5 separate regions of the Homo sapiens genome follow, and regions 2, 3, 4 and 5 are each linked to region 1. The links come from fine-mapping of genetic effects on gene expression. A gene starts in region 1. Each other region holds a variant in brackets. All regions are shown on one strand. Distances are between the middles of the regions.

The links.
Region 2: its variant is fine-mapped to the expression of VIT in nasal epithelium (TOPMed, PIP above 0.99).
Region 3: its variant is fine-mapped to the expression of VIT in tibial nerve (GTEx, PIP above 0.99).
Region 4: its variant is fine-mapped to the expression of VIT in whole blood (TOPMed, PIP above 0.99).
Region 5: its variant is fine-mapped to the expression of VIT in skeletal muscle (FUSION, PIP 0.95). The same link has a PIP of 0.9 or more in subcutaneous fat.

The regions. Positions count from the first base shown.
Region 1 is chr2:36,693,637-36,698,740 of GRCh38, forward strand. VIT (vitrin) reads left to right here and starts at 3,071. Exons shown (of 16, transcript NM_053276.4): 1 at 3,071-3,337. All of the region lies in intron 2 of LOC124905990 (a long non-coding RNA gene), which reads right to left.
Region 2 is chr2:36,819,296-36,824,399 of GRCh38, forward strand. No RefSeq gene overlaps it. Among named protein-coding and RNA genes, the nearest start is that of VIT, 130 kb to the left of the region's middle. The variant A/G (reference allele first, on the strand shown) is at 2,084.
Region 3 is chr2:36,736,909-36,742,012 of GRCh38, forward strand. All of the region lies in intron 3 of VIT (vitrin), which reads left to right. The region is part of intron 2 of LOC124905990 (a long non-coding RNA gene); the gene reads right to left. Among named protein-coding and RNA genes, the nearest start is that of VIT, 43 kb to the left of the region's middle. RefSeq lists an enhancer at 203-898. The variant G/A (reference allele first, on the strand shown) is at 2,633.
Region 4 is chr2:36,800,821-36,805,924 of GRCh38, forward strand. VIT (vitrin) reads left to right here. Exons shown (of 16, transcript NM_053276.4): 13 at 481-584; 14 at 4,618-4,844. The region is part of intron 1 of LOC124905990 (a long non-coding RNA gene); the gene reads right to left. Among named protein-coding and RNA genes, the nearest start is that of VIT, 110 kb to the left of the region's middle. The variant C/T (reference allele first, on the strand shown) is at 2,533.
Region 5 is chr2:36,771,560-36,776,663 of GRCh38, forward strand. It overlaps VIT (vitrin), which reads left to right. Exons shown (of 16, transcript NM_053276.4): 8 at 2,232-2,288; 9 at 3,443-3,508. All of the region lies in intron 1 of LOC124905990 (a long non-coding RNA gene), which reads right to left. Among named protein-coding and RNA genes, the nearest start is that of VIT, 77 kb to the left of the region's middle. The variant C/G (reference allele first, on the strand shown) is at 2,254.

The DNA of each region.
Region 1 (5,104 bases):
CCAGCTACGCGGGAGGGTGAGGCAGGAGAATGGCGTGAACCCGGGAGGCGGAGCTTGCAGTGAGCCGAGATCGCACCACTGCACTCCTGCCTGGGCGACAGAGTGAGACTCCAACTCAAAAAAAAAAAAAATCAAGTAGTAAATATTATTAAAGGACAATAAGTACTAGAGAGAAGAATAAAACAGGGAAGAGGAAAAGGAAAGGCTTGGAATGTTGGTGCCATTTTAAACAGGACAGCCAGGAAAGGGCTCACTCAAGAGGTAACATTTGAGCCTAGATTTTAAGAAGGTGAGCATGGGAGCCACGCAGATATCCGAGAGAATACTTCGGGGACAGCACGTACGAGGGCTCCAGGCCTTTGCTTCCAGCTTCTGAACAGTACCTCGTGGTGTGCTTCTCCCATACTTAACTCATGAATTCTCTGGTCATGGACTTCTAGTGGCCCTGTGTGAGAAGCTCACTGACGAATATACCCCCAGAAAGAGGTGGATGGATCCTGGGGTACACAGGTAATTCAACCAAGTACTTCTGGATTTTCCTCTAGAATAGCCACATTTGTCTTCACCAGTAGCAGCTCATCATGGTTATGACATGTCTGCCATGATCTTTCTTCAGATTTCTAATTTTTGCCAAGATGATGAAAACAAAATGATATGTCATTGTTTTTTAAAAGAGAATGGCTCCTTTTTTACCATTTTTAACTGTGGTAAAAAAAATGTAATAAAATTTGCCATTTTTTCCATTTTTAAGTGTACAATACAGTAGCAGTAATTACATTCATAATATTGTGCAACCATCACTACTATTTCCAAAATTCTTCATCACTGCAAGTGAGCATCTCTTCATATGCTTTTCAATACATTTATATTTGATTTTGCCTTATTTACCATAAGAAAACAAGTTAAACTATTATAGTAAAAGAAAAGAAGCTCTAAGTCTTAATAGAGCACCATTGCTTTGGAGTCAAGAAGCCTTGGATTTGAATCCAATATCTTGCCTTATTGGCTGCATGACCCTGGGAAAGTTGCTTAATCTCTTTAGGCCTCAGTTCTCTTATCTATAGAATGGAGATTATACTACTAATCCTTCTACATTCTTCTAAATATTAAATGTAATGATATATGTACAGGGTTGCTGTCCTTAGTAAAAGTAAGTATTTGATAAACAGCAACTAGCATTATTATTATTATTATTATTATTTTTTGAGACCAAGTCTTGCTCTGTCAACCAGGCTGGAGTGCAGTGGTGCGATCTCGGCTCACTGCAACCTCCACCTCCCAGGTTCAAGTGATTCTCCTGCCTCAGCCTCCCGAGTAGCTGGGATTACAGGCACCCGCCATCACACGCCTGGCTAATTTTTGTATTTTTGGTAGAGATGGGGTTTCACCATGTTGGCCAGGCTGGTCTTGAACTCCTGACCTTAGGTGATCTGCCTGCCTCGGCCTCCCAAAGTGCTGGGATTACAGGCTTGAGCCACCGAGTCCAGCAGCATTAGTAGTAGTAGTATTAGGAATAATGTGATTATGAATTATGCTTAGGCTGCCATTCTGAACCTGCCCTAATTCAAGTGGTAGGACAGGGGATCCTCAGTGTTACAGCATTATCATCCTTACCACCAAAGAACCTGGGCTCAGAATTTAGTGGAGGAATAAAGAGGATTGAGAAATAATTTCATTGCAGAACCAAAAGAAGTAAGGGTAAAAATGATTAAATAACATTCAAATCATTATCTCCCTTTTTTTAGTCTTCATGTTCCTTTAATGGAGGAAGATTCCTGATCAGTGTACAGTGATGTATTTATTTAACAGTGACCTGTGCAGAAATTACATACTATCCATCTAGATAGCTTGCTACACTTCGCCTATTGATGGAATCATTCCATTTATCAAGTTTTATACATCAAAAAGCTTTGAATTTCATCAGGCTCTTCATTAATTCACCTCTGAAAAAGTGGCATTTAATTTCAGCTACCATGTTTTATAGCATTAAAAAGCTTATGCATCTCTGCACAATGGCATTGAGCAGATGAATCCCACCCAGATTCACATAGTCACATTTGAGAGCTTTAGACCAGAGAGCTGGGCCAAAGTTACTCCTAATCAACACAGACTTCTTACCGTGAGAGCCTATCTTCTCGGCCACATTTTATATAGCCAATGAAGACGTGCCAGCAATCATCCCATGTATAACTTGGCATTAGAGCACAAGATCTGTCAAACAATTATCTTAAATAAGGAGCAGTTCCAGGGCCAACAGATGAGGACAGGAGGCTTCTCGAATGGAAGAAGGTTCTCCTCCCTAGCTGCGTGAGTGCACACTCCCCAGCAGGAGGAGGAATGACTCTTTGCTACCTTCTCCTGTGCTTGAAAACAGATGCTCTGCCACACTGATGGACACTGGAATCTCAAGATCTGCCAGATGTACTTTTTTTTGGTCTGATTTTTTTTTAATGATGTGATACGTTAATACACATTTTGAATCTGAATCTCTTAGATTTCATTGATGACACTAATATATAAATAACTAAAACTGGCAGATTTCATGTGAGATTATTCATCAGTATTTTTTTTGAAACATGAGTCAGGTTTTGCTTCCCACTATGATTATCTTGTGTCCTGTAACTACCAGCATATAATTGAGTCATTTCATAAAACTTGCCAAAACGCAGAAAGGACTGAAGCAAAACAAAACAAAAAAATAGCATTAATATGTAGGAAAAAGTACATATTTTCAATTCAAAAGTGGGAGTCCAGTAGAATAAGTTTGAGAGTGTTTGCACAGTTTTCCTTCTTTGTGCAGTTCAGTCCAGCTGTTCACTAGCTTTTGAAAAAGAAAGAAAAAATTGAATTGCCCCTGCTGAAGTAATTTTTAAAACATATCTTTTACTTTCCATTTTTATCTAAGTGGTCCTCCTCTACTTTTTAGAATGTCAAATTGTAGAATTTGCTTACTGAAAGTTTGTGCTTTGGGCTACAAAAGAATATTTAGAAATCCTTACAAAAAAAAAAAAAAAAAAAAGCAGTGGGAGTGGAAATTTGAAAGAGGACCGCCTAATTCAGCACTAAAACCAGTGTGAGAAGCAGTATGTGTGAGCATGTGTGTGTGTGTATGTGTGTGGGGGGGGGTGTAAAATGTGTTTTTCAAAGTACTGAGAGGTTGATGGGACTGTTCGATTAGCTCCTCTGAGAAGAAGAGAAAAGGTTCTTGGACCTCTCCCTGTTTCTTCCTTAGAATAATTTGGATGGGATTTGTGATGCAGGAAAGCCTAAGGGAAAAAGAATATTCATTCTGTGTGGTGAAAATTTTTTGAAAAAAAAATTGCCTTCTTCAAACAAGGTATGTCTGATGAATTTCTAAGCTGTGTATATAGTTACTTTCCATTCATTATCATTGAAACGTATTTGTCTTTAAGAAACTACAATACAAAGCTTGACCGAGTAAGCAAATTTCAGTTTCAAGAGAGTTGAGATGAAAGTGGATGGTACTTGGCATCCTTGTAAACAACTAGTAATATACATATATATTTATCAATTATAAATAAACTGCATTGATATTAATATTATAACAAGATTTTTACTGTTCCTTTAAACCAATTTAATTATGGTTACAAATAAGTTGAAAAGTATGACATTTGTGTAGAATTTTAAAGTAATTTAAGTCTCTATTATCTTGCTTTTTTAAAAACTTTGCTTGGAATATGTGGAATGTAATAGCAATATAGCAAATTGCTTATAAAGATTGTGAATGGCAGTATGAGAAATGGGCACATTGGTGCTAACTTAAAAGAGAAACTATTTCGTGTGGATCTCTACTTCTCTCTATTCAGACAGATTTCAGTGGAATGTGGCTAGATGTGCGATTCTGTGTCTTGTTTACACTTAAAGTGTTTTCTTAGGCTGAATGCTTCTGTTACTGATAAGCCCAACAAGGGGCTGGCATTGTTAAGTCTGCCATCGTAGCTCAGCTTTTCACAGGAAGACAGGATATGAAATCTCTTTTAAGTATGATTTGTGTCCAACTAGTATAAACATGAAATAAACGCCTCAAGCACAGGTTAAAGAGAGAGGATAAGACTGAATAATTAGACATGACAGTTTTCTCCAAACAACCCACAGCATCTTTGCCATTCCTAAATCAAGAGTGGAATTAAAAATTTTCTTTGGACTTATTGTAAAAATAAAAACAAGCATTCTTGGCCGTGGTGGTTGCTCAAAATTGCGTGTGCTAAGAAAATAGTATTTTGCCGTTACGTTGTGTTGCAATAAATTTGGAAGTTTTGGTGGTAAAGTTCTGAGGTTGTTTTTCCCTTGGTCTCTTGAAAGATGAAAACACCCTGCAGCAAAGCAGGATCAAACACTGTTTGTTTGTGTATTTTCTCTCTATGTGTGTTAGCTGCAAGTGGTAGCTAGTGCTGGTAGGAGAGCTGGAAGTGCCCATCTTTTATTTATTGAATTAAAATACCCTCTTTTGTACAAAAAGCTTTAGACAAAGAATTACAAGATTGCAAAGACTTGCATTTTTTTATTGCAATATGCTGGTTTCCCAGACTAAGCTTCATTTAAATATATCTTATGCCTCACCACTAAAAAAAATAAAAATACCTTAGGAAGATTGGAAATGCTTAATATCTATCCTAAAACTGTTTAATTCATGAATATTGTTAAGAAGATCTGTCTTTTCCACCAAGTTACTGATCACATGAAGAATAGTTTCTTTCAGAGAAAATACATGAGGTTTGAGAATGGTTCTCAGCTATGATTCCTATAAGACACATTGAATACAGGAAAGCAGTATGGTTCAATGCATGCGCCAAGCCAGGAGTCCTAAATTATAGTAACAGCTCTGCCACTACCTATTACCTTGGAAAACATATATAACATTTCTTGACTTTTGTTTCTCTCTTTGGAAAACAGAAATAGCAATGCCTGTACACCCTCCCTCCCAGGGCGGCCACAAGGGTCAATAGTGGTTCTCAGCTCCAAAGGAGTTTTGAAATGTCAAAACTTCTATAGCAATGTAATCTTGGCCTGGCGCAGTGGCTCACACCTGTAATCCCAGCACTTTGGGAGGCCGAGGTGGGTGGATCACCTGAGGTCAGGAGTT
Region 2 (5,104 bases), 130 kb after region 1:
CCTATTAGCTTGATAAACTCTGACTCATTCTTCAAGTCTCAGTCCAAATGCTACTTCCTTTTTGGGGCCTTCCCTGGTTCCAAATAGACTTAGGCTCTCTGGATACAGAACCCTGACCCACCTATTCTCCAGAAACTTGATCCCTTCTCACGAGGAGACACAACCTATACACATCATTAAGGACATGGGATCCAGAAAATGAAAACTTTGACCCTAAGTCGCCTGATGGCGCCAACCACAGATACATTGGTACTGGTAGAATGCGAGGCAGACATTTCAGCAGGAAAGAAACAGAATATGATGGCAAGAGAAAGAGAGGCTCTTATTCCATCCAGACTACACCACCCTTCCCAATGCCCTCCTATTCATTATATGCTACAGTCATGGTTTTTCTAGGACCAGAATCTTCTTTGGGTATCTACCCATGGGGTAACTCTGTTCCTCACCTTATGTTCTCATTTCTCCTGCAGAAAGGCAAACTCAATTTTTTTTTTTTTTAATACACAGTTTCACTCTGTCACCCAGGCTGGAGTGCAATGGCACCATCTCAGCTCGCTGCAACCTCTGCCTCCTGGGTTCAAGTGATTCTCATGCCTCAGCCTCCCAAGTAGCTAGGGTTACAAGCGTACACCACCATACCCAGCTAATTTTGTTTTGTATTATTAGTAGAGATGGGCTTGGCCAGGCTAGTCTCAAACTCCTGACCTCAAGTGATCCACCCACCTCGGCCTCCCAGAGTGCTAGGATTACAGGCGTGAGACACCGTGCCCAGCCAGAAATGCAAACTCTTTTTTTTGTTTGTTTATTTTTCTGAGTTTTATTCAACAAACATGTTTTAGCTGTCTATTATATGCCAGGCATTGAGGTGGGCACTGAGATACGAAGAGGAATATGACTTGCTCCTACCCGAAGAAACTATAGGCTAGAATGAGAGAGACACAAATAAACAGATAATGTGACTGGTGAGAGGTGACTAATGTGATAGGTGACAAGCAAGCTTGGGAAATCTTCCTGGGCTAGGTTTTCTGGGAAGAGTCCATTTCTACCAGGCAAAGAAAAGTGGAAAAGGTGGTCCAGCAGAGAGAATGACAGAAGCAAAGGCAAGGAGGTATGAAACAGTGTCGGGCCCAGAGAGAATGACAGTGTGGAACTTAAGGCAAGGGGCCAGGAAATGAAGCTAGAGAGGCAGGAGCCAGGCCACCTAATGCTGTGATGGTTAAGGTTCTCTGGGCTGCAAGGAACAGAAACTCAATTTGTAGTAGCTCAGGCAAAAAGGCAATTGTTTGAAGATAACTGGAATAATTCATGAACTCTAGGATCAGGAAGACAGCAGAGTCTCAGGAACAGGACGAGGGACAGGAGCAGGACAGGAGAGCCAGGAACCCTCTCACTCCACCCTCCTCCAGGATGGTCTTCATCTGGAAGTAGGTGAACAACTCTGGAGAGAAGGAATAGAGTGAAACTTCCCTCCCCTTAGGGGCTGAGCCCACAATGCAGGCCCTTCAGCAAGGCCACCCAGCAATCCAAGCTGACGTGGCTGAAAGGAGGTGAGCACCCACATTCTTCTATCTGATCACCCACAACCTTTTGAAGTTCCTTGAAGCATCAAGTTGCTTTGAATGCCAATGAATGCATGTCCTCAAGTTTCTGAGTCTGGAAGGCCAAACGCAGGCTGAGTGATGGTCTTCCAGCTCTATAGTCTTCCTTTGTTTTGTTTAGCTTTACCATACAAAGCCAATGACCGTCTCTCTAAGACTCCCTTTCACTTCTCTTGCCTGCAATGACTACAAGATGTTACTTGTTATACACCATTAACTGCTGAAGAGCTATTCAGACTGCCAGGGCGGCAGATGTGATGCTTCTGGGATCCACTTCTGTTTCTAGTATAAAGGCTTAGCTGAGGAGAAATGTCCTATATAAATAACCATCCACATGGAAAACCAATAAGGTTCAAAGACCACAGTTTCAAGGAAGTCTTTGCTTTTTGTTTAATGTCCTTTAATTGAAAAATACTGAGCTGAACTTTATCCCTGCCATCCCTCTTACACAAACAGGTCCTGCGGGCAATAAGCTGCCCAAGTAA[A/G]CAAATACTCTATCCAGCTTGGCAGCTGAGATCCTGCTATAAAAAACACAATCCCCACTGAATAGCTCCTTTCTGCAACAACTCCAGCCTCACACATGGTTGAGGTGAGCAGGGTGTATTCAGGTTAACGGCAAACTGGAATCTGGGTTCTCAACAAAGAGCTCATACATGACTGTCCAGGGCACAGAAACTGGGAGGGTTCGTAAGCCATAGAAACTGTGCAAACGCCAGAACAAGACCCAAGACCAATTGAATTGTTGTTGGTCTGACATCCCCAAGGCATTCTTAAACCTGTACCCTGATACCATGATAATGATTTTTTTAATGACGTTAGTAACTCTACAAGTTCTCCTTGAAATCATAGTAAAAGGGAGTTTCTTTCCAACCCCAATAGGAGGGTTGTGCAGTGTTTTAAAGCCAAAGAGGGAACAGGGACAAATCAAAAGGTTGCAAACTTAGTAATGACTGTCTAAGACACACACCAAGCAAAACAAAGGAGCAGACGGAGCTTCCTAAAGGGCAAAGAGTCAGTGTAATTTGTTTTCTTCTAAGAAAACACCCTCATTGAACTGGATGACAACTGCAGTGTGGAAACTGCAGGGGACCTTTCCAGCTCTATGGCCTAAATGCAAGGCCTGGAACACCCACATGCCTGTTCTACCTTCAGACAGGGGGCATTCTCCTAAGGTGGAAAATCAACCTTTCATCCTGGAGACTTTCTAATCCTGGACAGTCAGTGAAGATCTCTGGAAGCAAAATACTAGTGGAGTTGTGTCAGCCTCAGCAGGGATTTGCCCACACGGACAGCAGCCAAGACTGTCCCAGAGGGGCCTGCAGGCTTGTTCATGAGCAGATTAGGGGCATCCCTCAGAGAACCCCCTAAATACTTGGTCCTGCAGTATGCCAGTGAAGACAAGCCAACATCACTGAGTAGTTATTGTCCATGTAACTTCGTTTGCACGGACAGACAGGCTGAAAGGCCTAGGGAAATTTTGGTGACAATAGTAAAACCAATCATTGATCTCAGTTATGAAGTCCCAAAGTGCCATGAACTGAACTAGCCACTGTATACACTTTGTCGTTGAATACACACAAAATTCATGTTGTTGAATAAATACATATTTCAAAACCATCCTTGTTCCATACTTCTTTTGGGAGAGATTGGTCTTGAAAGACAATCGAACATAATGGGAAGTCTGCCATGTGCCAAACATATTTTCACAATTCATTACAGCCTCAATTACTATTCAATTTTCCAATGAGAACAGTGAGACACAGAGAAATTAAGGAGTTGCCTGAGGTCACACAGCAGGTAGGACGGAGAGCTGGGCCATGAACCTGGGTCTCCTGACTCCGGATTCAGTGCTGTCTTCAGTACAGAATAGCCACCTTGCCCTGTCTGCTTTTTCCTCCCTGGTCTCATCAGCCACTTTTCTCTCAGCCCTGTTTCCCTCTTCCCCCAGCTGCCATCTTTCCAGTCACATATTACAGAACCATCTTTTCAGCTTTACACGTCTTGTGCCCATATTTTCACCCTGTTTTTCACCCTGCAACAGGGAGTCCCGGGTCCATGGGATTCCAGTGGCAGACTGGAAAGTTACTTAGAAGTTGTCAGTTGCCTTTTGCCCTCCATGTCCCTTGTCTTATTTCCCTGATCATTACATAAGGGTTGCTCGCCAGCTCAAGAGTTACTCCAGGCTCTGAAAATGGTTTCATACAGAACAAGGGGCAGAGACTATGCATGTTCTGGGCAGCTGAGGGGTGAAAAGAAAGAGCAGGAGTCCTTAATGTGGAAACCTCACTTTTAATTTTTTAAAAAAGTCATTTCATTAATGAATTGTTTTGAATTTCAAGGGACTCTGAATATTTTTAAAAACTAAGCATTTTAAAAACAAGTTGATCTGAGAAATTTTTCTTGACCAAACTGTAGTTCTATCTCAGGAGAGTTTCCTTGGGTGCAAGCCAGTGTAGGACGATGAGGCACCCTCCAATCCAGACTCCATGGTAAAAAGCTTTCCCATGTCCAGTTCCTTCCACAGAGCACAGTCAGGTGGCAGCTCTAGGGAAATGGCTCCGGCCCGGTACCCTGGCAACCTTGCATGCCTCCACGTAGGCCACGTGGACCAGGCTCCGCTGCAGTGGGACCTAAGTCTTGTTGGAATACCGTGATATCATCCCAGGAACATGGCGAGACATGTAGTTTGTGGGGAGCTGTCCCAAGGCCGCTGTCATCCATCTTTCTCTCTATCTTGTAGGAGGTTTCTCCAAAGCACTTTGTTTTTAGCTTTCCTGGTTTCAGTGAAGGCTAGGACTTTATACCTCGCTCCTCTTTACAGTACAGCTGCAGGCTTCTTTTTCCTTTTTCTTTTTTTTTGAGACAGAGTCTTGCTCTGTTGCCCAGGCTAGAGTGCAGTGGCACCATCTCGGCTCACTGCAACCTCTGCCTCCCAGATTTCAGCAATTCTCCTGCCTCAGCCTCCTGAGTAGCTGGGAGTACAGGCACATGCCGCCATGCCCGGCTAATTTTTGTATTTTAGTAGAGACGTGGTTTTACTCTGTTGCCCAGGCTGGTCTCGAACTCCTGAGCTCAGGCAGTCGGCCCGCCTCGGCCTCTGCAAGTGTTAGGATTACAGGCATAAGCCACCACGCCCACCCCAGCTGCAGGCTTTAAAATGTGTTCATTGATCACGCCACTGCACTCCAGCCTGAGCCACAGAGCAAGACCATCTCTCAAAAAAAAAAAAAAAAAAAATCATTCATTGCCTTCTAGAATTGGTATCCCACCACACATGACGTCCATCACCTGGCTCCTTGTTTTTGTGCTGTCCTGTGGGATGAGGGAGCTAGCATCATGCTGATCTTGCTTTTGCTGACTACATAAGTAATACACCGTCTGAATCCATTTGGGTCTATCATGTCTTTACCTGCCAAACCTGTGGCAGCGTGGCAAGCCCACTGCAGCAGTAATCACTGTTTATTAGGGGCTGCTTGACAGCAACTGTTTCCTGAGATGCCCTAGGA
Region 3 (5,104 bases), 43 kb after region 1:
GTAAATCAGGGACTGTCTGTATTTACCACGTATTACTCTAAGAGCTTTTTTTATACAGTCTATCTTCCCAGCAAGACCAAAAGTACCATGAAGATCCAATTAGTGCTCATTAGGTATGGACAAAGGAACAACAACAAAAGCCACTATAAAATAAAGCAAAATGTGGTAAATTCTATAGGAGAATAACAAACAAGGAGTCTACAATAGGACTCCTATTGGTCTTATGAAAGAACATTCAAGATAAGACCTGAAAAATAAGTGAATTTTTACAGGCAGAGGTTGGGAAAGGGCTTTCTAGGTGGACTAAGCCCACATACCATGGAAAACAAGTGGAGGATGAGGTCAGGAAGCAGTGAAAGGCAAGGTTGGGTTTAAGCACTGAGGAGTCACGGAAATGCAGCTGGAAGGTGGATTAGGACCCACCAGGCAACACCAATCTGAGAAGCTTTTTTTCTTTGTCATTCACTAGAGGGCGGGGACTCCTGAGAGTTTTCTAAGCAGGAAATTTACATGAGGAAGACAACAATCAGTGAGATAAACACGATATTCTCCACAGGCAGTAGAGCTACATTCTGAAATATTTCCATTTACTTTGGAGTCTGTTGAAATAGACTTAATTTGGGGTGAAATGTACAACATGTAGTTCACATAGTTCTCTCCAATGAGTTAATCTTAATACCTTGTAAGGCATGGAAAGATTTTTGCAATCAACCTTGAAAGAGTAGATGATTCCTGAACCTACTGCCTTGGGCATGAAGAGGTCATTGTTCTGGGACTTAGTTACTTAATGCATTGGACACTGATGAAGAGAAATACGACTCCATGGTTGTAAGATTTGGTATAGCATGCACACAGCTTCTTGGGTAGGTTTATGTGTAGCAACTTGTAAGTAATCCCCAGTGTTTCTTGCTTCTTAGACACCTGGCGCCAACACCAGTGGGTTCTCCACACAGATTGGTTTGTGGGCCCTTTCTCAGACCATGAAAAAGGAAGAGGATTAACTTTCTAGCCCTTCTTCTGATATGGGTGAGAAAGAAGGCAGAGACTGTCTGTGTTACAGATTTTCAGTTGAGTAGACTCTACCCTGGCAATTCTCAGAAATAACGGGAAAACAGTACAATGGAAAATTACGCTAGAAGAGTTACTTTGCAGGTATTTGGGGTAAATGCACAGATGCATGCATGTATTCACATAAACACACACACACATGCATACACACAACCTATTTGTAAGATATATACTGCATTCACCCACTAGTGGTTGTCAGCAATCTTCAAGTTCAGAAAAGCCTGTAAGATTAGACTAGAGAAGCTGCAGTTTAACTTCTTCCCTTCAGTCATGGAAGTGGCAACCAGGTGGAGCTGGCAAAGCTTTGGGTTTATAGGCCTGAGTTCAGGTCTTAGTTCTGCCACTTGATATCTGAACAATTGTTCAATTGTTAATTGAACAAATTAACTTGCCTCTCTGAAAAATGAAGACTAATGCCTTTTAGGGTTTTGTAAGGACCAAATGAAAGAACCTATATTAGGGTCCTTTGTAAACTAAAATATGTATTTTTAGAGACACAAACTTCTGCAGCTGCCCCAAAACTGTGTTGCCACAGGCCAGTTACCCTCTGTCATCCAATCACTCCATCCATTCATTTATTCATTCAGCAGACATTCTCTTGAACAGCAGTGAACAAAACAGACAAAAGTCCCTGCCCTCATGAATTTTATATTCTAGTAGATGAATGAAGATGTTAACTGGAACTGGGACCTAAAAGATAGTAACATTCAAACAGATGAAAGGAAAAAGGGTTTCAGAGGTGAGAAATGATTCAAGCTAAGTGTGCGAGACAACATGCATTTAGAAAGTAAAGACTTTATTGGCAAGTATTGGCAAGCCTAGACGTTCCATGGAAGAAACTATGGAATGGCCTTAAGGATTTTGGAATTTTTCCTAATGGCAGCAAAAACCTAGTGGTGGTTTTTGAGCAAAGATTCAATGTGATCAAAGATTGTTTAAGAAAAATGGATAAGAATGCTTTGCAAAAGAGGGTGCTTCAAAGGAAGAATTAAAGTGACCTAGATATCAGGATCAAGGAGAACAATGCATTCATCTTCAAATTAATGATATTTTTATTTCATTAAACTGAGGACTTTTTGCATAATTCTCTTAAAAACAGGATTTTACTCTAGTTGAATATCACAGTGCAACAAAATTAAGTTTAATATTAAAAGTTTTCATACATAAGTGATTTTTTTTATGTTATAATTCTTCTTCATTAAAAAAATAAAAATAATAATTCTTCCTTATTAACAGGCATGAGGCAAGCTTACGATAATTGCTTGTTGATAAGGAAACTTGTTCTCCAGAAGCAATGTGGCTTGCCTGGGATTACTGAAAAGATGAGTGGCAAAATAAGGAATCTGCAGTTTGATTTGGCCTACTACATAATCGGCTTGCTGTATGTGACATCATCTAATAATCACTGTTATTAGCCTAGGCAGGAGACCCAACCAACAGAAGAAATATTTGCAGTTCTTCCTCTCAGATTCCAATTTTGTACTAAAAATTGACTCAAATAGTACCAGTTGTCTGTTCTGAGATGAGACCTTTTGCCCAGGAACCCTTGTGAGATCACTACAGC[G/A]GACACATGAACCTCAGTGACCTAAAGGTAATCCTACAGTTCGATCTGGTTTGCAGGTGGTTCTCTTTTCCCTGTGGCTAGTTCCAAGGGCCTTTGGGAAGGAACCCTTGGCAGATACTGAGGTGCTCTAATGTGATTTCTGATACGAAAGTGAGAGCGTCTATGAGAAGGCAAGATTATCTTAAGGAATCATATGAGACGGTGGGTGGGTGGGGTCGCAAAGGGAGAAGCGGAGCAGGTGGCCAAGCAACAGGTTTCTGTGCAAAGGTGCCACTCAAGAGGTCTGGGCTCCCCACGGCTCTCTGTGGCTTTGGTGTGGACTTTCCCTCACGGACGCTAGCAACTGTCCAGTCCGGAAGGAATGGAAGAGGCTTTTGTCTTGCTTTCTTCAAAGGTTCCAGAATAAGTTCTTTTTAGAACTTACAAATAATTTTTCACCTGAGGTTAGCTGTGGGGACACAGCATTCCCCTCTGACTGTTCTGGCATTTGCCAAATGTCTTCCCGCTCCCTTTAGACCTACAACTGATACTTCTTGAGCTGCCTTAATTTTAGCTTATCTTCTTAAGGAAATCCGATTTTCTGCACTTTTAGGATCAAACTCAGAGAAGGGGGAAGGGAGATACGAATAAACCTTAACAACCAAAGAAAGAGGAAGAAAGGAAAACCTAAGCTGCGAGCACTGAATAGTTCAAAGACCTTCAGAGGAAAGGCCAACATCCGTTTCATCTGGGCCTTAAGTGGAGCGGTGGAAGATTCTTTGGCTGTTACAAGAAAACAGACTACCTCACAAATAACTGGGAAAATATTGTAGAGAAACAAACCATAGTTTCCATATACTTAAAGAAGAGCTGCCAGAAAGATGCAAATGCCTGCTTTTTCCTGGCTGAACATAGACATTACACTTTTTAATAATTTTGGCAATCACTCTGCAAAATTTAACTAGTTCACTCTCTCCAGCTTAATTTTCTGTACAAATTTAACAAATTTTTTACCTTTAGCCACACTTTACCGTGGCTCCCTGTTTTTTCAAAGTGCATGAACACACGTGCCTGATTTCATTTTTTTCCCCCGTGGGACAAATTAATGAGTGAATCCACCAATTTTGCTAATCTGGTTAGGTGCAGATAAAGCAGATCTTATTTAAGGTACTTCCCTGACATTTGTAAGGGGAAAAAAAAAGACAAAATAAACAAGCAAACAAAAAACAAGTGCCCCCTTAAAGAAAGGAGGGAAAATTGATTAGCAGGAAGTAAAATGTGACATTTTCCCTTGTCTTTTAAACCAATTATTTCATGGAAGATCTTACTGCATGTAATATGTGCACCCAGAAGTCTTTCAACAGGTTTGATCATTGTCTAATACTCATGAAATAAGCTTCCAGATAGAGACTCGTTTACACAACCCCAAAATATTTAGTTGGTCTGACAGGACATTCAAAATCTCACAGTGCCAGAGTCACATCAAAATTTAATCTTAATGCACACAGCTTGTCACTTCCTATTTCAAAAAATTAAGAACAAAGAAGAAATCTTTCATTTTCTTTACCTCTAAGGGAGGAGATGCATTTGGGAGTGAGGAAGTGATCTGGGGAAAAGAGGAGAGTTGAACACACAGTTACATCCAGGAATCAAACAATTCACTAATTTGAAGAGAGACCACACTGGCATCTTCATCCCAAAATATGCCTTTAAAAAATACTCTGAGACTCATAATAGTAAATGCAGCCTTGAGTATCAGAGTTTAAAAGAATGAAAGGTAAAAAGAAAATAGCCGGCGAGGAGGCAACCTTTGATGGGGAGAATGAAACCACAAAACTGTTTGAAGCACAGCGCTCTACTTCTTAATGTAAACCACTAATTGCTTAAGCCTGTGATCAAACTCAACCCCTCGGTTCCCAGCAGAAGTTCCCTGTTGGCCCAGCCCTGAGTAGCAAAGATTGTCTGGGATGGGTGTTTAAGAAAAGAGCATAAAACTTCAGTTCTCTCTCCAGCCTGAATGAAATGCAATTCTCCTCATTCAGGTACACAAGGGTTAAAAAAGAATATGCTTTTTGGATACAGCTGGAAGCCATTAGCAACTCTGAGACCATCTCAGGAACCCAGTTAGAGGGTGGGTGGCCTGGCAGAGCTCCTGGATCCAAGAGTCTGTGAATTACAGACTCTTAGCATTGGGAGAGGTTTTATTCTACTCCTCACCCAATGTAGAAATCCTCTCTGTAACTGTTCAGTCTCCACTTGCATACTTCTACCAACACCCCACTCACTGCTTCCTGGGGCAGCTCAGTCCTTCACGGACAATTTCAGTTCCTAGAAAGTTCTTCTTGGCAAAATTTGCCTCTATAGAAAGTCTGTTCTTTAAGTTCTAGCTCACCCTCTGGCATCACAGCACACAACAATCCTACTTGTGAAGATAACTATCATTGCCTCCAATTCTTGCTTCCTCATGCCCAAATGACCCATTTCTACAAACCA
Region 4 (5,104 bases), 110 kb after region 1:
AGAGAGGTCTCCTTGGTACCACTATTCACGTGCAATTCCAGTGCTAAGGGTAACCCAGAGAGTGGCTGACAGCTGAGATTCTCTTTCTGGAGAGGGGGGTCTGGGGTAGGCTGAGAACGCTGAGCACTCCACAGATGGGATCCTGACATTTGCAAAATCCCACTTGACAACAGTCCCGTTCATTAGCAATATGGGTGTTATAACGATGTTTTCATCTACATGAGGAATCTGAAGCCCAGAGAAGTTGTCTCCTCAAGATCACACAGCCAGGAAATGGCACAGTCAACACACGCCTTCTGAGCCTTGAAATAGCCTCCTTTTCTCTACACACACCAGTCCACAATGGGACATTTTACAAGGCATAGCAGAAGGCTTTGAAGCAGCTTCTATTTGTATATAAAAGAATCAACCATGATCTCTGCCTTCCTCCAAAGGTATTAACTTTGCAGCTAATTTGTATTTCTTGTTCTGACTCTTCAGAGACAACCCTGCTACTCACTTTAACCTCAAGACACACACGAATTCTCGAGATCTGAAGACAGCCATAGAGAAAATTACTCAGAGAGGAGGACTTTCTAATGTAGGTATGTGATCCGGATTCAAATTATACTATCTTGCTACCATCGTTCTCTTTCTACGTGATTGTCTTCTAACCATTCTATATAAAAGGAAAAAATAATAATAATCCGTCAAGAAATAACTTCTGGTCGGGCGTGGTGGTTCACACCTGTTATCCCAGCACTTTGGGAGGCTGAAGCTAGCAGATCACTTGAGGTCAGGAATTCAAGATCAGCCTGGCCAGCATGGTTAAACCCTCTTTCTACTAAAAATACAAAAATTAGCTGGGTGTGGTGGCGGGTGCCTATAATCCCAGCTACTTGGGAGGCTGAGGTTGCAGTGAGCCAAGATGGCGCCACTGCACTCCAGCCTGGGTGGCAGAGCGAGACTCCATCTGAAAAAAAAAAAAAAAAGGACAAAGAAATTACTCCTGCAACATCTATATCTTTTCTAAAGTTATCATGGCTTCAGAGGGCAAGAATCTTTAACACACACACACTGTACAGTCCCAGCATGCTTGGTTTGCAAGAAGGGGTAGCATTCTTCAGGGCAATCAAGTCTGCTGTCCTGACTATTTTTTTGTTGGCCTACAAGTCATCACTTGTTTCATTAAATTTTGTGACCAGTTAAGGAAGCCCCTCAGTGCCCCTTGAGAATCTTGTTCCAATCAACTACCGTTGTAGTGATGATTGTGCAAAGAGAAACATGTTCTCTGTTTCAAGCTAGGTCTTCTGTGATATCTGAGCCTTTGGGGTCTCACCAGAAATCCAAAGTCTAGTCCTCAGTGGGGCATGTCCAGAAATTCCATTTTATGTTTATCCAGAGTTGATTGGCCATTAGGAAACAGTTTCACACTAACCAAGCTCAAAGACTGTCAAAGAGCCCATGCCAGTGTATTCATTTGTAAATGAAAGATTGGCTTTTTGGGCACTGGAGGGAGACTGTCCACCTCTCGGGGAAAGTGTTTCTGTCATCAAAATCCAAAGAAATGGAGTCATGAGCCACAGTTGCTTGGCTTAGAGTACATGCAGGGAATTGAGCTGTCTTTGAGGGAGCATCCTCAGAGTTACAGTAAATCCGATTAAAGATTTCCCTTCCCACTTCAGTGTATGTCTCTATAGTGACCAGAACATTAGTATCTAACACATACAGAGCTTTTCACCTTTGAACAATGCTAAATAAACACTAGCCAAGTCACTCTCCATGCCCCCAAAGCAGTATTACCTTCATCACACACATGACAGAGTTGATTTCTGGTTTGTTTATAACTTAATGCTTACATTAGTAAAATCCCAGTGGAGACAAATGTCAGAAGGCACTCTCGTTCCTTGACGAGGTTAGCGATGGGTCTCAATCCAATCAGCATACGTTTTTCAGTGGATGACATGTTCTGACTTTGCCTCTGTATTGTCCAGAGTTTGGGTTCTGAGGACAGAATCCGTTCAACTGATTCCAACAGAAAGGGTTGGAATTTCAGGCTATTAAGTAGTTTGGAGAATCACTGTAAGAACTGAAGAAGCAGACTGTAGGCTGAGCTTTAAGAGATGATGTCTGAAGGCTTCCTGCAGAAGTAGGACCTCCAAGGGAGCTGCTCCTTCTTCCAAGATTAGGAAATCACTTTCTGAATTTTGCCATGGCAACCTCTTCAGAAACCTGCTTTGTCCAGGAAGCCAGCAGGATCAGGAGATCAGGAAGCTTCTTCTAGAGCTGCCAGCTCCAGAACCACGCCCTCCCTGTGCCATTCACACCCACAACATGGATCTCCACACCCTGCCGCCCCAAACCACTGCAGCTAGCAACCAACCCCAAGCACCTCTGCGGACAGTATCCCAGAGAAGTCAGATACTAAAGATATTTGTCAGCAGAAATATAAACAAAAGTACAGCCTCTGCCTCACTTTTATCTTCTAAATCTCATGCAAGTGCATCAATTCATGGAACTAAAACAAAGCTAAATCCCTAGCTGCAAGGGAGT[C/T]TGGAAAATGTAGTTTTCTGATTTCCAGCCTCTATTTTCAAGACCCACTGGAAGGTGGATGGAATGTGTGTTGAGCACTATACACCATGGCCTCCAGATATAAGGTTAGGTGGGGTTGAGGGGATCTTCTCATGGCGTCTTGTGCTCTGCCCTATAGGTGCCTAATATTAGGCCAGAGAGGACTTCCGGGTGCTTTGTGCTTTGGGAAAAATTGTCCATTGGCTATAAAAGCAATTCTTAGCAGCCAAGGTTTTTCCTTAGCAAGTGGGTTCTGTGCAGCCAGTTCACATGGGTTTTCCAAGACATTTCTGCAGCATCTGTATATGTAACCATTTGATGCTCTCATTTGACAAGTAAGATAATACCAGCTAGTGGAGACAGGATGCTGGCCAAAATCAGAAATGCATTGAGTATAATACTACTAATCCTAAAGTCTAAAGAAGGTGCTTCTTAACTTTTATGGAGATTGAGGACTCCTTTGAGAATTCCGTGAAAGCTATGGCCCTTCTATCCAGACAGATACTTATATACACAAAATACTGTGTATAATTTCAAGTGCCCTGGGGTTCACAGAGCCCAGGTTAAGAGCTCTGCCTACTCTATACAGCCATGCTGACTCTAGGGTGAACGGTCATCCCAGTTTTCCCAGAAAAACCTGGGGCTTTCAGTACTAAAACTGGGAAAGTCCTGGCAAACTGAGACAATTGGTCATTGTCTAGTTGACTCTGAAAATTTCCTGAAGCCCTTCTCAGTGTGAAATATGCACTTGGAAAAGTCATGGCAGGAGGCTTTGTAGCACTTCATGGCTGCTGCACTCAGCTGAAGTAGATTGCTGTTATGGAAAGCTAGGCCCAGAGATGTAGGGTGACCTACTCAGGGCCACACAGCTAGCAGGTAGCACAGCCAGGGCTAGAACACAGTCTGTCAGTTCCCAGTGGGTGCAACTCTTCCCTGCCCAACCAGACCTGTGCCCTTGGCCTGGAACTGGAGGAAAAACACTCCTGACCCCAGAACACAGCTCTGTACAGCCAGCAGGAGCCTCAGGCTCACCCCAGGCTGCAGGGGGCCAAGAAGAGGCTACTGTCACTCCAGGTCAACTCCTCCCACCCTACACTCTTGGAAACAACATGGGGCTGGCTTAGGGGCTTAGTGTGGGTCCAGCAGAAAAGGGGCACTTCTGTTCGCATGAAAGTCTTTGGCCAGGCACGGTGGTTCAAACCTGTAATCCCAGCACTTTGGGAGGCCGAGGCAGGCAGATCACAAGATCAAGAGATCGAGACCATCCTGGCCAACATGGTGAAACCCCATCTCTACTAAAAATACAAAAATTAGCTGGGTGTGGTGGTGCGTGCCTGTAGTCCCAGCTACTTGGCAGGCTGAGGCAGGAGAATCACTTGAACCTGGGAGGTGGAGGTTGCAGTGAGTCGAGATTGTGCCACTGCACTCCAGCCTGGCAACAGAGTGAGAATCTGTCTCAGGGAAAAAAAAAAAAAGTCTTTCTCACCTGCTTGCTGTCCCTAAAACTTTCTTCAAAGCGGAGACAATTAGAAGTTGAAGGCTTGAAATGAAACCAAAATGGACAGTGGTAACGGCTGCACATTGTGAACGTACTTAATGCCACTGAATTGTACACATAAAAATAGTTGAAGTGATTTTAAAAAAGTAACAGGCCGGGTGCAGTGGCTCATGCCTGTAATCTCAGCACTTTGGCAGGCTGAGGTGGGTGGATCACTTGAGCCCATGAGTTTGAGACCAGCCTAGGCAGCATGGCAAAACCTCGTCTCTACAAAAAAAACACAAAATTAACCAGGTACAGTGGCACACGCCTGTAGTCCCTTCTACTCAGGAGGCTGAGGTGGGAGGGTTGATGAAACTCAGGAGGTTGAGGCTGTAGTGAGCTGTGATCGAACCACTTCATTCCAGCCTGGGCAACAGAGCAAGACCCTGTCTCAAAGGAAAAAAAAAAAAAAAAAAACTAGGGAGGGAATGAGTGTATTTTTCTGGACCTCTTTGTGCTGCTGTGATCTCTTCCTGTATTTATAATCAGCGTGATCACTCCAAGCATGAATTTTCTTTTTCTTCCAGGTCGGGCCATCTCCTTTGTGACCAAGAACTTCTTTTCCAAAGCCAATGGAAACAGAAGCGGGGCTCCCAATGTGGTGGTGGTGATGGTGGATGGCTGGCCCACGGACAAAGTGGAGGAGGCTTCAAGACTTGCGAGAGAGTCAGGAATCAACATTTTCTTCATCACCATTGAAGGTGCTGCTGAAAATGAGAAGCAGTATGTGGTGGAGCCCAACTTTGCAAACAAGGTAGATGACTGCCCGGAGACCTACCCAACATCAGGATTTTCTGCACTCTGAAAAATTGTAACGCCGTTGCAGTGGTTTTCCCATGCCTTTAAATGTGCATGAAGCTCATCTCTAGGCAGTAAGGCCTCCAGGGAGGGACTGGTCAATCCGAAACCTGCAATTACCCTCTCAAAGCAAAACCCCACACCCACCAGCAGCTGTGGAGGAGCAGTGTACTCGAATTCTCAGCTAGGTTCTTCCTTGCTCCTTCCACAGCCCCA
Region 5 (5,104 bases), 78 kb after region 1:
AAAGATGTTCAGCTTCACCAGGAATCAAGTAAGTACAAATTAAACAACAAAATATCATTTCTCAGCAACTCTCATTGGAAATCGATAATACACAGTTTGGATGAGAGTGTGGAGAAATGACCCAGAATTCACACTTCCAGGAATATATCCTAAGGTAATTATCAACCCGGGGTGAGAACAGATGCTGTTCATAATTTTTTAAAGGAGATAATTTACTTATTTATCACTAGAAGAATGGCTAAAGAAGTTACTATACAGGTAGTAAAATGTTGAGAAATATGTGCGCTTAGTGCCACAAGAGAATTGGCCTGGGGCAGATCATTCAGTCAAAGAAGCAGGCTACAAAACAGCATGGGAACCAATCTCATTTTTGCAACGTGTGTTGTACATGAGAGCATGTACATCCCACAGAAAAAGGGATACAACTCTGTATGCCAGAATTGTATACCAGTAACTGCTGGCTAGAGGATAAAAGGTGATTGCTTACTATGCATAGTATATCATCTTATTTTTACAGTAAGCCTATGTTATCTGCATAATTAAACAGAAAATAAGGCTGCTTTGAGGCTGGGCGTGGTGGCTCATGCCTCCCTAATTCCAACACTTTGGGAGGCCGAGGCAGGAGGATCACTTGAGGCCAGGAGTTCAATACCAGCCTGGGCAACAGAGCAAGACCCCTGACTCTACAAAAATAAAAAAAACTTCCGTGGCTCACGCCTGTAATCCCAACACTTCGGGAGGCTAAGGCAGGCAGATCACCTGAGGTCAGGAGTTCAAGACCAGCCTGACCGACATGGAGAAAACCCATCTCTAATAAAAATACAAAATTAGCCGGGCATGGTGGCACATGCTTGTAATCCCAGCTACTCGGGAGGCTGAGGCAGGAGATCACTTGAACCTGGAAGGCGGAGGTTGTGGGGAGCCGAGATCATGCCATTGCACTCCAGCCTGGGCAACAAGAGCGAAACTCCATCTCAAAAACAAAACAAAACAAAAACTTAGCAGAGCATGGTGATGTGCACTTGTAGTCTCAGCTACTCAGGAGGCTGAGGCAGGAGGATCACTTGAGCCCAGGAGTTCAAGGCTGCAGTGAGCTATGATCACACCACTGTACCCCAGCCTGGGGGACAGAGTGAGAGCCTGACTGAAAACAAAAAATAAACAAACAAACAAAGAAACCTACTTTGAAATTGTGTCAAATAATTGGAACATAGACAAAAAGAGTCAAAAGCTGATTTTGGATAACTCCAGTTCTAAGACAAATTGATATTTTTTTCCATGCCCTCTTGCTCTTCCCCTTCATGACATTTGGTTATTTCCGTCAGCTGGGTTTTACGTGCCTCTCTTTCCCTTCCAAAGGCTTTGCATTTCTCTTAACAGAATGTTTTATCTCCCTTCTCCCTTTTAAAACCTTGCTTTAGAGAAATTGCTCAATAAATAATGAATGTTGAAGTGTGTTTCCTTCGCTCACAGAGTAATTAACGATAACCCATTGTGTACCTCTAAAAATGATGAAAAGCTAATTCTATTTGCATCAATACCACGTTAACGCAGCTTAAGCAAATTGCTGAATGTTAAGTGACACTTCTACTGAAGGATTACTTCAACCTCCCCATGAGTGGCACAGTTGAGAATTATTGTAAGAATAATGAAGTGTAAAGAAATATGGCATTTGACTAAAAGATAGATACTTTGATAGTTGTGAAATACAAAGGTTATTATTACCTGTAGTTTTTAGTTGGTGTTTTAGGTTAAATACTCTTTTTTTTTTTTTCATTTGAATTCCTCTTCCAAGGCAGGTTTGGACTGCCCAAATATAGAGCTTCACCTTGTTTCCAACCTTGGTAATGTCTTGCTAGGTTGGATCATAGAAAGAATGAAAACAGTCAGGTTAAAATTTATTGGCCGGGTGTGGTGGCTCATGCCTTGGGAGGCTGAGGCAGGCAGATCACTTGAGGTCAGGAGTTCAAGACCAGCCTGGCCAACATGGTGAAACCCCATCTCTACTAAAAATATAAAAAATTAGTTGAGCCTAGTGGTACGCACCTGTAATCCCAGCTACTCGGGAGGCTGAGGTGGGAGAATCGCTTGAACCCGGAGGTTGCAGTGAGCTGAGATCGCACCACTGCACTCCAGCTCTGGGCATACAGTGAGACTCCGACTCAAAAATAAATAAATTAATTAATTAATTAAATAAAATTCATGCTCTGACCAGTCAAATGTCCTTACAGATCTCTGGTCCACTGCCACCTA[C/G]ACAAGCAGCCAAAACAGGCCCAGAGCTGATCCAGGTAAGACCTTAAACTCCCTTTCCAGCCACTGATGAAAGTTAAGCTTGTTTACATGCGGTTCCTCTCCACATCTTTGCCATTTAATTTAGATTTGGACAAGGACTATTAAACCACTTAGGCCAACAGAAGATGCCACTCAAGGGCCCAACTTCTAAGAAAACATGTAAAGAAGTGGTTAAGTAAGCAAAGCCCTGTCCCACTCTCTGTTCCCCTGAAGCGAGTCTGTAGAGGTTGTGATAGGAATGTCTCAGGATTCAGTAACCGGGCTCTTACAGACCTGAAAAGGGGCACTCTCTGGGGCTTATTTTTGAGGAACTACGGTAAAACACGAAGGGAAATTTGTATCATCTCCCAGGAAAGAGGATTTTTTTTCTCTCTTTTTTGCCTGAGTAATTCTATGCCACGGGGGACAGAAACACATTCTCTCTCCCCGGGAGTTCACCTATGAATTCTGAAATGCCCCTGGCTGTCTTCATTTCTGTATGGTTTGGCCGAAGAACTAGGAATCCAGCAAATTCTCTTCTCTGCAGCACTGTTAAGGCCTGCAGAGATTAGAAAGGAAAATCTAGCAGGGTTTGACGGTTTCCACAAACTCTACTCACAGCCCGGTCTATGAGCTGATAGACTTGGTGGAAGTATACCATTCCCTCTGAAGCCACAGGACACTAGGATCAGAAGCAGGTCTTCTCCCTGCTGGGGGATACTCGTCCACTCTCCACATGTTCTTAGAAACTGTAGGTTCTGTTTTGCTTGCTACTGGATAGGAACAGGGGCCCAATGGGCTCCTCTGGTCAGGGCGAGCAGCTTCTATGAGCTTCACAATTGCACCTTTGCCAATGCACATGCTGTTGTCCTGGACAAAAAGGCTTGAGAATGAGAACACTGGCCAGGGCAAGGACTCCAAGGCCATCTTAGGCCTCTACAGACTCGTGGGACTCTACAGGAGCCCAATCCATGGAGCACTGTTTCCTCCTGTCCCCTTGGCCAAGATTTTTGCCTCCTCTGCAACCCCCAGAAGTACAACCAGGCACAGAGAGCTCGGCCGACTTCCAAGGAAAATCTGAACTAAGGTAATTTTCACCGGGGGCAAAATAAGGAAAGAAAGCAGCCTGCTGGTTGTGTGTAAATCGGCTGACCCTGTGTAATCCCCTCAGGTATCCAAAGGCAAGATCCTTCAGGAGCTGCCTTCCAGAAACCTGTTGGAGCGGATGTCAGCCTGGGTAAGCTGCCCACTGCTTACCATCTCTGCTCCCTAGGAATTTGCTCTGTGGCACTTTGCAAACATGAGGACCTCCCCACACACTTGTTCTTGGCCTCTGCAGCTCAACTTCAGGTCACCAGAGTTTGGGAGCATGCTAAGATATTTTAACCTCGAGAAAATGTCTCTTTGATTGATCTGTTCTCAGTGCATCAAAGAGAAAATCTTTGTCAACGAAGACATCCAAGGGCTGTCATTACTTTATGTCTCCTCAAGAGGTTCCCTCACTAAGCAGCCTCTTTGCCTCTCTGCACCTACCAGGCCCATCCTCAGACAGTCCTCCAGGATAAAGCACAAATACCCAGATACAGCACATGGTTCGGATATGGCATGGGGGATGGTTGGCAAGGAGGCACATAACCTGATTTGCATCTTCAATTTTTTACTGCCTGACAATTTTGGGTTTGTTTCAATGCTGTATTCTGCTGAATGTATTTGGCCTCATTCCCTTTTTCTGAGTTTACCATCCTCCAGTTCTATAGCTCTGGGATTCTCTGTTTCTTCTCCATTCTCCTTTATGCTCCCAATAATGCCACTCTGTCTCGACCCACACAGATGTTCCTAGATGTTCCTTTACCTTCAAATCCTACCCAATTTCTGCTGCTTCTCTCCTCACCATCATCCCTGCAACTTTGCTCTGAGTGCCTCAGAGTCTCCCATGAACTCTCAGAGTGTTCCTGACTTAAAGGACTCCCCCAACACACTCTAGGTGCTCAGACCTAGACTAGCTATGAAGCTCCATTATGGCTCCTACAGGGGAAGGAAGCCATTTGCACACCCTGAGTAAAGGCAGGTAAGAACATTTGGAGTTCTTAGATATCCTTCGACCAACTCTCATCTCAGATGCAGTCATGTATACAAGGCAAGCTGCCCAGTTCCTCAGCTATAAAATCGTCAGATTATGGAATTGGAAAGAATTGTATAAAGTACATCTGGTCTAACTTCTCACCTGAAAATGAATCACTTATGGTGTGCCAGACAGAGGCCTTTACCCTATATCGAATAACTTCAAGTGGTAGGGAATTCCCAGCCCCTTCATTTGGTGGGTGGCACTATTAGACGTAACTATCCAGAACTTCAGCTCCTCATTACTAATTTGTCTAAACCAGTGGTTCTCAAAGTGTGGTCCAAAGACCCCGCTTTCAGAGATTCTGTGACATCTTCCCTTCTCTGACTACATGTTGTTGTGAGGACAGATTTTCTCCACATATTTCAACAACAACAACATATCACAACTGACTGCAGGAGCTGATAACAGACTCCAGCTATCTTCTATTATGATAGACATTGGAGACATTTGCCACTCTTCTCACTGAAGCCTTGGTTTTAGAAAACAGTTTTTTTTCAGTAAAAATTAACGCTTACATTAAAATATAATAATTCTATTGTCACTTTGAAGTAAATTAATAGTTAGGCCGGGTGCGGTGGTTCACGCCGGTAATCCCAGCACTTTGGGAGGCCAAGGCAGGTGGATCATTTGAGCTCAAGAGTTCGAGACGAGTTTGGCCCACATAGTGAGACCCCGTCTCTATTAAAAATACAACAATGAGCCGGTGGT